2 separate regions of the Homo sapiens genome follow, and region 2 is linked to region 1. Evidence: fine-mapped expression QTL. A gene starts in region 1. The other region holds a variant in brackets. All regions are shown on one strand. Distances are from middle to middle. Region 1 holds the start of SCFD2 (sec1 family domain containing 2). Region 2 overlaps SCFD2 (sec1 family domain containing 2).

The links. PIP is the estimated chance that this variant, and not a neighbour inherited with it, causes the effect.
Region 2: its variant is the best candidate, but not a certain one, in a credible set for the expression of SCFD2 in tibial nerve (GTEx, PIP 0.56).

The regions. Positions count from the first base shown.
Region 1 is chr4:53,361,912-53,370,255 of GRCh38, forward strand. SCFD2 (sec1 family domain containing 2) reads right to left here and starts at 4,150. Exons shown (of 9, transcript NM_152540.4): 1 at 3,193-4,150. The coding sequence starts at 4,030. RefSeq lists enhancers at 3,576-3,625, 3,846-4,045, 4,066-4,115.
Region 2 is chr4:53,133,181-53,141,524 of GRCh38, forward strand. The region is part of intron 5 of SCFD2 (sec1 family domain containing 2); the gene reads right to left. Among named protein-coding and RNA genes, the nearest start is that of SCFD2-AS1, 210 kb to the left of the region's middle. The variant A/T (reference allele first, on the strand shown) is at 4,403.

The DNA.
Region 1 (8,344 bases):
GACCTTTAATCCACTCATTTATCCATTCATTCAATAAATATATATTGAATACCTACTGTTTTGAAGGTACTCTTGCTGGTTAATAAACAGTAAACAAAACAGAGTCCCTCCCTTCAAGAACTTCCATTCAAGTGGGAGGAGACAGGTAATAAATGATCAATTAGTAGTGTCAGGGAATAGTAAAGGCTATGACAAATAAAGCCAGGTAAGGGTAAGAGAGTGTCAAAGAAGTTCACCCAGGAAGGCCTCTCTGAGGAGCAGGAATGATGTGAGGGAGAAAGCCATATGGATACCTCGAAGAAGAACATCCCAAGCAGAGCTGCAGAGGAAATGCAAAGGCCCTGAGGCTGGAACATGCTTAGCATGTCTGACAATGGCAAGGTAGCCAATGTTGTAAGAGGGGAGATCAGGTATGGCCTTGAAAACAACAGTGAGGAACTTGACAGGAGGTATGATCAGAGGCCACTTGAATACTGAGCAAGTAAATGATATGTCATAGTTATGCTTTGAGGGATTATATAAGAAGCTGGCCTAAGTGGTTGCTTGTCTGTATAGGTTTCATACTTCTTTAATTGTTTTTTAACTATTTGCATGCTTTCCTGTGTCAAATGCTGCTTTGAAGTTCAGTAGAATTAGTGTGGTAATAAAACAAAGGAAGTTTCTGGGAAGTATTGGAAAATAAAACTCTAACTGGAGTCAAGAGAAAATTGGAGCAGATGTTTGTGGAGACAACAAGTATAGACAACTCTTTCAAGTTTGCTATAAAATAAAGCAAAAAAAAAAATGGAATTGAAGTTGGAAGAGCATGAGAGGTCAAGACAGAAGATGTTCCCTGGGTGAAAATACAGAGAAAAGGAAAAAATGATGATCTAAGAAAGGGAGAGGGTATTTGAAAAACAGTAAATCTATGAGAGAAGTGAAAAGAGAGGCTTTAGTCTACATAGGTGAAAAAGTTGGCGTTAGTGGCAGGGACAGTATATTTCTTTTCAATATGAAGGAAGGAAAAAGACATGGGTACAGATGTAGGAAGGGTGGTAGATTTGGTGATGGGAAAATACAGATTTGTTTAGTGGCTTATATTTTCTCAGTGATATTAGAAGCGAGAAAAGTGAGTATGGGGAAGGAGATCTGGACACTTGATAAGGGAGAATCTATAAAATGATTGCTGCCAAATGGCAACTTTGTCTTTCTATGTGTCTTTATTTTGCAAATCATTCTTTTTTTCTTTTTTTTTTCTTTTTTGAGACAGAATCTGACTCTGTCACCCAGGTTGGAGTGCAGGGATGTGATGGTGGTTCACTGCAACCTCTGCCTTCTGGGCTCAAGTTATCCTCCACCTTAGCCTCCTGAGTGGCTGGGACTACAGGTCACCACACCTGGCTAGTTTTTTCATTTTTTATTTAATTTTTAAATTTTCTGTAGAGATTGAGTTTTGCTGTGTTGCCCAGGTTGATCTCAAACTCCTGAGCTCAAGCAGTCTGCCCCCCTCAGCCTCCCAAAGTGATGGGATTACAGGCATGAGCCACTGTGCCGGGCTCTAAATCATACTTGACTACGTTATATTGATACTTGACTACATTATATTGTAAACTTTTAGAGGGCAGAAGTTATGCTCACCTTATTTATTCTGTATGTTTAAAAAAAGGGCGCGGTGGCTCACGCCTGTAATCCCAGCACTTTGGGAGGCCGAGGCGGGTGGATCACGCGAGGTCAGGAGATCGAGACCACGGTGAAACCCCGTCTCTACTAAAAATACGAAAAGTTAGCCCGGCGTAGTGGCGGGCGCCTGTAGTCCCAGCTACTCGGGAGGTTGAGGCAGGAGAATGGCGTGAACCCGGGAGGCGGAGCTTGCAGTGAGCCTCGCGAGATTGCGCCATTGCACTCCAGCCTGGGCGACAGAGAGAGACTCCGTCTCAAAAAAAAAAAAAAAAAAGCATTACCTACTGAAGATGTAAAGAGCTGTTACTATGATGCTGGACAGTGGGATATTAAGTTTTGCCTAACAGAAGTCTTAGGGGAGGGTACAAAATTATGTGAACTTCCCAGTTGATTATGAAACAACTTTGCTACATTTTTGGCATAAAGAGATAGAAGTAACAGTAATATATAGCATCCACAAAAAAACTCAACAAGCATCTACTTATCAGGTTTTATCTTTTAATCCCCTATGGACTCTGTGATGCTACAGTTATTACTTATATATTTAAATCACAGACTGGACACCTGGTTTTTCCAGTCACATAATTAAGTTTACATCTCAGTATTACCATTTAGCCTACTTTCCATTTTTTATCTGAAAATTAATCTTATTAAGATTAAAAACTCAAATATACCTATTTCGTTTTTTATAACTTAATTCAACTTTTTTTCTGACCGATTAAAGGGAATGCCTACCAATGTCAGTTTTCCGATTATTCTCCCTGGACTTGGAAGTGGCTAGGCTATATTACTAACAGTATTATACAACCTAATTAGAGAACAATAAAGTTGACCTTTGAAAATAACATATCAAACATCAGAAAGTGTCTTTTCTTCATCTGCTTTAAGGATTACATTTGTTTCTTTTGTGTAAATAATACATTATTACAATTTGAGATTATTTACTTAATCTTTAATACAATGAGAGCTAAAAATAAATCAATAAACATTTGAAAATATTTTCTACAATTCTATTTCATCTCATTTACTAGTAACATTTAAGTTCAGCCTCACTTTTGAACACTCATTTCCTAAACCTCAATTGTCTGTAATAATTTTATGTTTTCTTGTGCAGTAGTTTTCCTTCCGCTGGGTCATCTATTAACACTTCTCCAACAAACCAGAGTCTTCTTATGAAGGACTGTTGTGAATACTGGCATTCGTAAATTTCTAAAAATAAAATTTCCCAGGTGCACAGTTTTCCTCCCTGTCAGCATAATCTTGGGCTAAAGTTGTTGTTTAACAAGGCAATGGGCATTTATGACATTTCTACCCATTACAGCATTTAACAAATGTTATTGTAATTGCTAATTCACCTGTCTGTATTCCACTTTAGACAATAAACTCTGTGAGATTAGAGACCGTGTCCATCTAGTTCATCTTTGTATCCTCAATCTAATATATAATAAAAGGTCAATAAAATATATGCTGAATCAATGAAAGTCCCAGCAATGTGGGGAATGGTAATGAAGAACTCCAGAGCAATGCACTTACCTGTGAGATCCAGGGTTCTGTCCACAAAAACCACTGATGCCCTGCCTGCAGCAGTCTTCTTCCTGTTCTTTGCAGGGGCATAATTGGCCAGATCCGCAGCGATGACCTGACTTAAGGAACCTACAGCAAAACACTCCTCCCGTACTCCTAAATGTTCACACAGAGAACTGAGGCCTGACACTAGGCATCTGATCTGCAGCAGCAGCTCTGGGGTTAGCGTAGTGGAGTCCACATCACCCAGGCTTCCCAGCTTCCTCTTGTCCGGTCGGGCGCTATTAAGGAGGTGCACATCCTGGGGTAGCAGTGGGAAAAGGGATGCAAAAGCTGGAGTCAAGGCAAAGTGGGGAGCAACAGGGGCAAGCAATAACGGGACATGGAACACCTCGGCCGTGTAGTTCATGTTGCCCATCCATTCACACAGCTTCTCCTCCAGCTGCTCGAACACCGGCTGCTGCCCCTCCATCTCGGCCGCTGCCGCCGCTGGGACATGATTAGCTGTGAGGTGGACAGCGTGGCTCACGGTTGTGACCACCACACAATACTGGAAGTGACTGCGGCAGATGATGTCCCGTAGGATCTCCACGGTCCGGCCTTTCAGCAGGCAGCTCAGCACAAACACTGCCTTGGGCTGCTTGGCTCCACCACCAATTGCGTCGGGCTCGAACTCTCGCAGGTGACAGTCAGGACCCCCCACCGCCTCCAGGAGACGGGTGGATCCGCAGCCCCAGTGCAGGCTCTCGGCGCAGGCGGCGTCCAGGTAAACCACAGCCCGTTTCACTTTGGCCAGCACCTGCTCCCATCCTTGCTGGGTAAAGGACAGTACGCCCGAGGCGCTCATGGTTGGGGATTCGCAGACTTGGGAAACTACGGTGCAGGAACTTCTTTCAGAACTCACCGCTTCCGGAAATTGGGCTCCGGGAGACTTTGACAGTCTCCACAGTACACGTGGTCGGCCTCTGACACGCTCCCTGATGGCGCTCGGTGATGACGTTAAACTGAGCGGTGATTGGCTAGAGAGGAGGCCGGGAGTGAGGAAGGATGGCGCGGTCGGGAAAGAAGTGGGTGGGGCTCTGTGGCTCCGGGCTTCCTCAAAAGCTCGTGGAGATCAGGTGTTTCCTGAGATGGAGCTGAACTGAGTTCTTTCCGTCGCTCGGCCTGTCTGCGCAGATAATCTTCTCAGATAATCTTCTCATGTTCCTTGAAAAGTCTCCGAAATAAAAACCTAATCCGAAATTTGGTATCTTCCTTAGATATGAACACGTCTCCAAAAGTACAGCCACCTTCTCAATCTAAACTCAGAGCAACTAGAAAAAGATAATAAAAACAACCGTGTGCAATATTTTGGGTTTATAGATTGCTGTCACATACGTTATCGCCCACAAGCCTCATAACAAACCCTGTTGTTCTCATTTTCACTTTCTCCATCTTTCCTCCCTCATCTCATCGTCACTACATCTTATAGGCTTAAAAACTCTCAGAATTCAGCCCTTCCTCTCCATTTTTGCTGTCACAAAAACCCAACATCATCGCTCACCCAGGCAATGATCTCCCAACATTTTCTGACTTTTGATCTCTTTACCCTCCAATTCTATTTTCTTCCTAATAAACAAAGTTGGTCCTACAACTTTCCTGCTTAAAAGCTTCTCCTAGCCCAGTTGCCTATAGGATACATCCACACTCTTTAAAAAGCATCAACATCCTTCTTGATTTCTCAATTTCTCTCCAGCTATTCCCAACATGGAGAAAAATTGTACCGATACAATGAAGTCAATAGGCTGAACCCAAAATGTTTTATGGGTTCTGTTTGTTCCACCAATATACTTACATTACTAAGTATAATCTCTGTGCTAAGCTTCAAAGATGCAATGGTTAATAAAATTCATTACCTAATCCACAAAGAATTTACCTGGTAAACTTACCGAAAATAATCATTCCAACAGTACTGCCTGTGAGAGACTTTTTCTAACTCACCACCACTATCACCCTATCACCTCTCACTTCCCCCACCTATCAAACCACTCAATTGATACATTCGCTAAGTACTTGCCATATCATGGGGTAAGTATTAACACTATTTTCTTTAAACTATCTGTTTTGCTAAATTATGCACTAGATGCTTGGTATCCCCAACACTTATAACAGGTGTTCAATAAATGTTCGTTGAATGAATGTTCAATTAATATCCATGGCCAGGCGCGGTGGCTCATGCCTGTAATCCCAACACTTTGGGAGGCCGAGGTGGGCAGATCACCTGAGGTCAGGGGCTCAAGACCAGCTTGGCCAACATGGTGAAGCTCCGTCTCTACTAAAAGTACAAAAAATAGCTGGACATGGTGGCAGGTACCTGTAATCCCAGCTACTCGGGAGGTTGAGGCAGGAGAATCACTTGAACCCAGGAGGGAGAGGTTGCAGTGAGCCAAGATGGCACCACTGCACTCCAGCCTGGGCGACAGAGCGAGACTCTGTCTCAAAAAAAAAAAAAATTCCACATAATAATATATCCAGCCAATTTTTAATAAATACGTACAGTATTCCAAACACTGTCTGGGTTTTAAGGATATAAAGAAAACTAAACCACAGCCCTGATTTCAAAATAATTATGATGAAATAAAGGGACCCACACATGTAAAACAAGTGCAATAAAATGTTACAGAAGCAAATACTTTTTAAAATTTTTTGTATAGGAGTCAAGAAGGAGGAAAAATAAATTCTAAGAGAAAAAGGAAGAAGTCAGAAAAAGCTTCATATAGGGCATGAGTTTTGACTTGCCTTCAAAGAAACCCAGGTGTTCACCAGGTGGACAGGATGGGGAGGAGGATTCTTAGCAGTCCAGGCACAGAGTGCAGCATAAACAAAGTCGTAGAGGCATAAAACAGTACAATATGTTCTCTGGAACTACAAAGGGTTTCCTATAGCTGGAGTGCATTGTATGAAAAAAGGCGCAAGAAGAAATAAGAGCAAGGAATTAGAAAAGAAAGAAATGGGCTAGATCAGCAAGAGCCTTATTTTCCATTCTAAGTAGTAGCAGCCAGTGGGGAAGTATTAATGTATTTTGGGGTATGGAAATAATTTGTTCACATCTGGATTTTAGAAAAAAAATGGTTCTAGTCAAAACATGGAAAATAATTTGAAATGGAGCAATTTAGCGCAGAGGGAGCAGTTAAGAAAATAATAGTATCAGCAGCAAATCTGGGTGAGAGAGTTGAAAAGCGTAACAAGCAGATGGACAGAGTGGGGAGTATGAATAGACGTTAAGAATATAGTGCCAAAGGGCTTGCTTATTAGTTTGACAGAGAGGGTGACACGGAAGGAGAATTTCAGGTTAGCACCCAGCTTTCTGTCTGGATGACTGATGAATGCCAGTCATTGAGATTTGAAAAACCATTAAGAGAAGCAGATTGCGGAATAAATACAGAGTTTAGTGGGGACATATTTTTGTTTGTTTGTTTCCTTATGGCAAGATAAGTGTAACATAAAAGTCACACCATCTTAACCATTGTAAAATGTACATTTTGGTGGCATTAAGTACATTCACATTGTTGTATAACCAATCTCTGAACTTCTTGTCTCACAAAACTGAAACCCTGTACCCATTAAACAACAACTCCCCATTCCCCCTCTCCACAGTCCTTGGTGACTTCCACTCTACTTTCTGTTTCTATGAGTTGACTACTCTAGTTGTTGGCAATGTAGTAGTTGACTACTCTAGATACCTCATATAAGTGGAACAATACAGTATTTGTTTTGTTGTGATTGACTTATTTCACTTAGCATAAAGTCCTCCAAGTTAATCTATATTGTAACGTGCATCAGAATTTTCTTTCTTTTTGAGGCTGAATAACATTCCATTGTATGTTACACCATTTTGTTTATCCATTCATCTGCCTATGGACATTTGGTCTGCTTCCACCTTTTAGCTATTGTGAATAATGGCACCTTGAATATGCAGCAGAAGAGTCATAAACCTGGTAGAACCTAGTAGGTAAAAGGGCCAATGACAGACCCAAGTTCAAATGTTGAACTAGTAAACAAGAAGATATTCCTACATGTTTGTATCCTTGTCAGCATGAAAATTATTTTAAGGAGCTTAAGTTGAATAAGTTGTTGGATGACAGCCCTTGCTCTTCCATTTAAACCCAGGTCAGTGCCTAGTTACTAACACCTGCATTAATCTTGATCTCAAGCTCACTTTTTGTTTCTACCCCTTGCATCTCATGCTGAATCATACATTCATTAGGTAAGTTTGAGTGAATTAATACTTCATCTTCTCTGAAAGGGCAAGGCACTCATGAAGTCATGGTTGAATATTGTGCCAGTAAGTGCTAGTGGTCGCCTCAATATTTATTTGTCTCTTCTTCTGTAGTAATAGGTTTATTCTGAACTCATAGACACACAGCTAAAGACTACTTTTCCAAGCCTCTTGCAGCTAGCTATGGACAAATGATGAGGCACGGGTGAATAAGATAGTTGGAAGTGACACATACAGATTTCAAATAATTCCCTAAAGGTGTATGGTTTTCTTTCCCTACAAATCCTACTTTCAGTTCTTTTGTACATGGACCCAGAGTGGAATTGCTGGATCATATGATAATTCTATTTTTAACTTCTTGATGGACCTCTGTTTTTGTTTTGTTTTTTACAGAGGCTGCAACATTTTATATTCCTACTAATAATGCACAGGGGTTCGGATTTCTCCACATCCTTGCCAACACTTGATATTTCCTGGGTTTTTTGATAATGGCCATCCTAATAGGTGTGGGGACATGAGGTTTTCAATATGCTTGTGGGACATCGAGGCAGAAACATCTAGCATGCTGTTGGATGTGTGATTCCAGAATACAGAAGAGAAATATGGTAATTGGGATTATTAGTAAATGGGTGTGCTTCAGAGTGCCTTAAGAGAACACAAAAAAGAAAGAAGACAATGATGGTGATGGAGAGAACTCTGAGCAACTTTTCTTGATGGGCAGAAGAAGTCAAGCCAGTGAATGGAGTAATGAGAGGTGCAAGTTTTAAGACTAGAGTGGCCAACAGTGGCAAGTGTCAGAAAAGGGAAAAGAGAGGGAATATGAGAAGAATCTACAGGATTTGACCTGTGCAGGAAGAAAGTACAGTCATGACAAGGGAGTGCTGGGGGTGCAGTGCAGAATGA
Region 2 (8,344 bases), 230 kb before region 1:
AGCCGGGCGTGGTGGCGGGTGCCTGTAGTCCCAGCTACTCGGGAGGCTGAAGCAGGAGAATGGCGTGAACCCGGGAGGCGGAGCTTGCAGTGAGCCCAGATCGCGCCACTGCACTCCAGCCTGGGCGACAGTGCAAGACTCCGTCTCAAAAAAAAAAAAAAAAAAAAAAATTCTCTGTTTGGAAGTACTTCATATGTTATAAAGAAGACTCACTTTCTACAAGGCTGGAGAAAATTACTTGGCTAAGTATGAAAAATGCTTTGTTTGAAAGACATAACTTCTCAAACATAATAAACAAAACGTCCATGCCTTGTGCTAATGGAGATGAAAGCTTTTATAATTAAGTGGTAGCCATGAAGAACAATAATAATTTTATATGGTCTACATTAGACCCAGACTTTTCCAAAGAAGAGAGATAACATAAACAAATCATTGCAAATAGATTTTTACTACTGGTTGTAGAATGTGGTCTTGTTTTACTATGGATAAGAATACATACATGGTTTCCTTTGGAAACTAGAGCTAAAGACATTAACATGAGCTGCCTTCCACAACCCAAGGAAAAACAAATCCTCAACTCCTTCCTCATTCACAGTTGATAAGACTCTGCTCTGTTAGATTTCTAGTGGGGAATGTAAGAGAACCCCAATTGAAAGCTCACTAGACTATGCCTACCTTCCCAATGTCTTTAAGAACACTGCTTTCCATTTGTCTGTCAATGAACATTTAGGTTGTTTCCATAGCTTGACAATTATGAATAGTGCTTCAGGGAATACCAGAATGCCAATATCTCTTTGAAAAAATGGACTATTCATTCAACCTTAAAAAAGAAGAAAATTCTGTAATATGTGACAACATGGATGAACCTTGAGGACATTACAGTAAGTGAAATATGCCAGTTACAGACGGGCACATACTGTGTGATTCCATTTATATGAGGTATAGGTAAATTCATAGAATCAAAGAGTGAAATGATGGTTACCCAGGGCTGGGGTGAGGGGAACTGGGGAGTTGCTTGCTAATCAATGGGCATAAAGTTTCAGGTATGTAAGGTGAAAGAGTAGAACTTATTCTACTTATTCTGCTGTGCAACATGGTGCCTATGGTTAACAATACCGTATTGTACACTTCAAAACTTAAGAGGGTAGATCTCATGTTAAGTGTTCTTATCACAATAAAATAAAATTTAAAAAAAAAACAGTGCTTTTTAAACCAGACCTGTCTTTCCTCATTTGTTATACATGGTTGAATTTAAACAAGGTAATGAACAGGTGAGAAAAATAGAGAAGAAAAAATTTAGAGAAGAACTAAAATCAAAATTTTTAAAAAGTTGATGATAATTTTTAAAAAGCGTGGTTCACTACAAAGGTAATTTATACATTTTATGCAAATAAATGTGAAGCTTTTGATTATTCCAATTCGAGTAACAGGAATCTCTATACCATTATTTTATGTCAAAGTTTTGGGAATTAAATAGCAAAGGAAGCACAGATATAGCTGTAGCTAGAAAACATACCATCTTGACAGAACATGAGGAGAGCCTCACACTTTTCCATAAAACTTACTTTTCACATTCTAGTTTCTTAAAGACCTAGAGCTCAATTAGTGCAATTCCTACCAATGCAGAAGGCCCAGTGTCAGTCAGTTCCTCATGCTGGGAAGCTCTTCTCATGGAGTAAATCAGACGTTCTAGCTGGCTTTAGTTTCCAGAGATGTCTGCCTTGTATTTAACCCAAAACTGCCTCTCAGCCTTTTCTGTTCAATAGACAGAGTTCTATGAGAAGCCTACTTCCACTTAAATGGTAACTTTATAGAATCTATTTGAAAAAAAAACCAAAAAACTATTCTACATCACTAGTAAACTTAAGCCAGATTAAAATGTAAACAAATGTAATTTTTTTTTTTAGTTAAAAGTAATCAAAAAAGGAGATCATTGGGTACTTTCCCTTGCTTTCTGATAAAAGTACAGGGCATCATTTTATCCATCTGGAGATCTTTTAGATTTCTAATAATTTCTAGAGTTAGAAATTCAAAAGCATTCCTCTGTAATCAATGCCTAAGGCGGGGGCTCTAGAATAAAGACTGGAAATTGTTAAGTCCACAAGCTGAATTCTGTCCCCCAATAAGATTTATTTGACTCATGTAATGTTTTGGAAAATAAACCAATTTCTTAAACTTTGGTGATTTCAAATTTTTAAAAATCCAGATTCCTGGTTTCTTGAGAGATGGCAATACCAGACTCATGCTTCCCTGGCAAAAATAAGAGGATCTCAGGCTAGGCGTGGTGGCTCACGCCTATAATCCCAGCACTTTGGGAGGCCGAGGTGGGCGGATCACAAGGTCAAGAGATCAGAGATCGAGACCATCCTGGCCAACATGGTGAAACCCCATCTCTACTAAAAATATGAAAAATTAGCTGGGCATGGTGGTACGTGCCTGTAGTCTCAGCTACTCGGGAGGCTGAGGCAGGAGAATCGCTGGAATCCAGGAGGCAGAGGTTGCAGTGAGCCAAGATTGTACCACTGCACTCCAGCCTGGCAACAGAGCGAGACTCCATCTCAAAAAAAAAAAGAGGATCTCCAGTTTGACACAGTCTCCACCACTCCCTATTGTCCCTTTTAGTAAGACTATACATCCCTGCCATTTATCATTGCATTTTCACTGTTGTTTCCCCAAAACCTAACCTACTTTACTTATTTATATTTCTTGCTAGCCTCTGTAAATACCTGAGTTTGAGATTCCTGTGCTAACCCATGATTTCAACCATTTTTAAAGTATGAAGACACAATATAATTATGCTTTTGATACCTGTTAATTGAAAAATGGGAAAAAATTATGCAACTTCAGCACTGTCTTTAAATAAATTTATCTTTTATAAATCACAACTGTATCTACAAATATTTGTATATTTATATGTGAGAGTAATATTTAGTTCATGGATGATACATAAAGCACACATGAATCAGTAAACCTTTGCACTAAGTCTTAGGTTTTCCCAGGGATCCGTAAGCCAAAGGTTGGGAATCACTGGTCTAGTAAAAGGAATTCTGGACTGGGAATTGGGAGACACAAACCTTAGTCCTATCCCCTCATTGAACAGGCTATGATTGGTGATTTGAGGCAAGTCAAATAACCTTTTGTGGCCTCAATTAACCTTGTTGTCCTCATGAGCAGAGCGAATAGACTAGATAATTGTTGAGAACATTTCCATCAATAAAACACAATAATATTATGCCTTATGACTCCTTTTACCTACCATAAAAACCCAGACATCCACAAAACTCCCAAAAAGTATACTTTGATGGATTAAAGGAAAGAATTGTCATGGAAAACCTGAAAACACAATGAAAACTAACTCTACCATTTCCAGATTTAGACACAATACCATATTGTCTGTCCCAAACCATGTTTGAAAAACTAGTAGTGTATCTGCAAATAAATTCTCCCAAAGAGAAGTTCATATTACAGATACATTTCACTTGAATTCAGATATTTGGGCTACATTTATTAGACATGCAAGTTTATGGAAATCAGCACACAACTACTAAGAGTCAGAGTCAAAACCAGAACCCAGATCCACTTGACTCCGAATCCTGTGCTCAGAGCCTCTACATTCTATTACCACTGTCCCAGGGTTTCAATGCTTAGAGAGCTTAGACTAATGCTAGGTACATAAATGTGGTCAATAAATATTGATAATCTGAGAATGTTTATGATATAAGTCCAGCACAGAATAGATCATTATTTCAGTATACACTGTAAAAAATTTTAATATTATAACTGTAATATTAAAACACTGGGCATCACTCCAACTCACAGTATCTTGCCTTAGAATTTCCTCTGTTAGAGAAGTCTGTAATTGTAGCAAATACAAGTTTCCTACCTAATGTACATTTTCACTTTCTATCTTCTAACAGAATCCTTACTTTGTTTATGACAAATATACACCCAGTTACAATATACACTCATCAGATTCTCTTGCAGTCAGAGGTTGCCATGAAACCGAGATCTAGCCAAGGATGCAAGTCTTCTGAGTGGGGCTTTCAAGAAAGCTGTTGTTTTCCTAATAAAAAAGGACAGATTTGGCCAGTATATGCCTTTTACCTTCATCCTTCCTCACTTCTTTCCCAAAGCATGGACACTTCTCCCTGGAGGGGAAGCATCCAGCGCATGACCATGATGATAAAAACCACACCTAGGACAGTGAAGGAGGAAGTCAGAAAGAGCATGAATTCTGTCTGGACTTCTTGCTTAGAAAAACAAACCCCAGTTGTTATGCTAATATGGTAAATTTTTCATTGTATACAACTGGGTATCCTAATGCATATAAAGCTATAGTAATTGATAGTCCCAAATTATCAACAGTAAAATAAGAGTTTGATAAATGTAAATTACAGTTCTT[A/T]GGGTATTATCATGCCTCTATCATGAACCACTGCATAGATACTTTGAGTTATTCATTCTCTAGCTTTACACTAAGCCTAAACAGATCTAGCCCTTGTTGACCTGGACTTTAAAGATACTATAGAAATACAGGGAAAATCAATGAGTAATAATGTGAGTAAATCAATGAGTAATAACAAAACATGTTTAGCAAGACAAATTTTTCCAAAGTAGTTTTTTGTGTCAAAAAGTAATATTAAAGTCTTGTTTTCCTTTGTTTCCTGATTCAGAGCCATCTGACCAATATACCCTAAAGCATTGGTTTGCTCCTAATAGGTCAGAGGTGTGCCAAGCTGCTGCTTCACCTCAGTCCACAGGTCAACTGGGTAGGACCTAGACTGGCCAGAGCCCCCAGGGCTGGTTGCCTTTGTTCATAAGAGTCTCGTCCACTTACCTCAATCTACTATGCAAACATTCTCATTGTCTATGCACATGATGAGAAAAGGGTGGGGAAGCACTACCCTATATGACAGCTAGATGCTATCAAAATCATAATGGTGGTGGGAGAAAAATAGCCTATTTATAATACTAGATGGACCAAACATTAGTTAACACACATAACATCATTTTATTCTCAGCAAAATCAAGAATGGTCAGTAGGGCAGTTACGTTTATATCAAGGTTCAAGGATGGATGATTTGCCCACTAACACTCACTGCTGAAAGACAGCAGAGCCCAGACTTTTAAATCAAGAATTTCTACATCCAAACACTATGCTTTTTTTGATATACCTCTCTATATGATGACATTCCAAGTTTACACAGATCTTTAAAAATAGTGTTTTGATTTCGTTCTCTGAAGAAAATTCAAATGGTTTTCTTTGTTTTCTCTTGTGACTGCCATGCAAACACTAACGTATGTTGAAACTGATACTCTCTTAGAACTTAGCATGACTGAGAAAGCATAACACTAATCAACATACTTGGCTGTACCAATTTTCTTTTTACAGCTCCCTACCATTGAAAAGCAGAGAGCCAACCCTTGACATTTTGTGTGAGTAGAAAAGTGAATTTTTGCCCACCACGCTAGAAATCTCCTCAAAAGTATCTATGAAAAAGTGAACAGAATAAAAGTAAAAGAGTATGCTGCCATTGAGTATGCTTAAATTTTTGTTTTGTTTTGCTTCATTTTGTCAGAGATTTGTATTGCCTTTCCATACAAGGGAAGAATATACAGAAATTAAAGAAACTGTCAAAAGTAAACTACATATTTAACAGATGAAAGAAAATCCCTCTCCCCCTCCCCCTCCCCCTCCCTCTCGTCTCCGTCTCCCCTTTGCACGGTCTCCCTCTGATGCCCAGCCGAGGCTGGACTGTACTGCCGCCATCTCGGCTCACTGCAACCTCCCTGCCTGATTCTCCTGCCTCAGCCTGCCAAGTGCCTGGGATTGCAGGTGCGCGCCGCCACGCGTGACTGGTTTTTGTATTTTTTGGGAAGACGGGGTTTCGCCATGTTGGCTGGCCTGGTCTCCAGCTCCTGACCGCAAGTGATCTGCCAGCCTCGGCCTCCCGAGGTGCCGGGATTGCAGACGGAGTCTCGCTCACTCAGTGCTCAATGTTGCCCAGGCTGGAGTGCAGTGGTGTGATCTCAGCTGGCTACAACCTCCACCTCCCAGCCGCCTGCCTTGGCCTCCCAAAGTGCCGAGATTGCAACCTCTGCCCGGCCGCCACCCCGCCCCACAAGAAGTGAGGAGCGTCTCTGCCCGGCCGCCCATCGTCTGGGATGTGAGGAGCCCCTCTGCCCAGCCGCCCAGTCTGGGAAGTGAGGAGCGCCTCTTCCCGGCTGCCGGCCGTCATCCTGTCTAGGAAGTGAGGAGTGTCTCTGCCCCGCCGCCACCCCGTCTGGGAGGTGAGGAGCGTCTCTGACCGGCCGCCCAGTCTGAGAAGTGAGGAGCCCCTCTGCCCGGCAGCTGCCCCGTCTGGGAAGTGAGGAGCCCCTCCGCCCGGCAGCCGCCCCGTCCGGGAGGTGGGGGGCAGCCCCCGCCCGGCTGCTGCCCCGTCTGGGAGGTGGGGGGCGCCTCTGCCCGGCCGCCCCATCTGGGAAGTGAGGAGCCCCTCTGCCCGGCCGCCACCCCATCTGGGAGGTGTACCCAACAGCTCATTGAGAACAGGCCATGATGACGATGGTGGTTTTGTCGAATAGAAAGGGGGGATGTGTGGGGAAAAGAAAGAGAGATCGGATTGTTACTGTGTCTGTCTGGAAAGAATTAGACATAGGAGATTCCATTTTGTTCTATACTAAGAAAAATTCTTCTGCCTTGGGATGCTGTTAATCTATAACCTTGCCCCCAACCCCCTGCTCTCTGAAACATGTGCTGTGTCCACTCAGGGTTAAATGGATTAAGGGCGGTGCAAGATGTGCTTTGTTAAACAGATGCTTGAAGGCAGCATGCTCGTTAAGAGTCATCACCACTCCCTAATCTCAAGTACCCAGGGACACAAACACTGCGGAAGGCGGCAGGGCCCTCTGCCTAGGAAAACCAGAGACCTTTGTTCACATGTTTATCTGCTGACCTTCCCTCCACTATTGTCCTATGACCCTGCCAAATCCCCCTCTCCGAGAAACACCCAAGAATGATCAATAAATACTAAAAAAATAAAAAAAAAGAACAAAAAGAAAAAGGGATATCATTTAAACACAGTATGTAGAAAAGAATAATTATTGAATCTGTACTGGTCTTTAACTTTTACACTTTGATCTTTAATTCTGTTATTGTGATTGAGTCCAAAGAAAAATAGTATGAGTAAAATAAAAAGAACACCAAAAATGCTAATATATATATATATATATATAAATTTTAATCCACAGGGCAATCACCGTCAAGAGATATTATTGAAATAAAATTTAAGTTTCCTAGCCTTGTTTTAGAAAGCTGGGCAACCAATAGATTTCAATGGCTTGAAGTGATACTTTAATTTCTTTATAACAATGCAGAAACTAAAGAGGATGCATTCATAAAAATAGGGAGGTATGGCAGGATCTATAAGTAGCTAATACAGACAGATTAATAAGCATAGGCAATATCTAACATATTAACCAGAATATTAATTCTCTGTTCAGAATACAAGAACATAATGGGATGGTTGAGCATGCACGGCATAAAACGATATATGTAAGCAAACATGAGTTACAGAATATAATACATGAAATGGTTACCACAGGTGAGGTTGTGGCAGGTTTAGAATATCATGTTTAAAGACATGGGCTACAGATCCACAATACCTGGGCTCAATTCCAGGCTCTACTGTTTATCAGTTGGGTGATGTTAGCACACTTAAATTTTTAGTATACAAAAATGGTTACTTTCTTGATCCTATCAACAGTTAAGATGGTAATGGAGGGTAGCCAATCATATACCCAAAAGATACAGTCCTGAACTCCCTAATCCTTAATGTTGAAATCCTAAAAGATCAGAAGCCCTAAAGCTGAAATCCTAAACATTGTAATCCTAAAAGTATAATTCTGGAAAAAAAATTTTTTAATCTTTAAAGATATTTACATTTTTAAAAGGTGATTTATTTGATAAACAACATGACAGAACATTCCATAAGCCACTTTACACAAAAAAACAGCCAATGATAATCTATATTTTTGTAAGCATAAACACTCAGGTATACTAATGACAGTCACAGAGGTATAACAGTTAAGATGAGAGGAAATATATTTATAGAGAAATAGGGTCAAAAAGGGAAATGTATACATATATCTCTCTAATTGGTAATTGTGTGCACCCAGCTTTACGTAACTGCAATCATCTGAATTACTATGATGAACAACCTCTTGTCTTTTGACAAGATTGATCAAAAACCAAAATGGCTGAGACAGGAAAAAAACAAAACAAAACACACAACGAGTCACTACCCACAAGAGCCAAGATTTTGAGAAATTTTGTCTTTCACAAGTG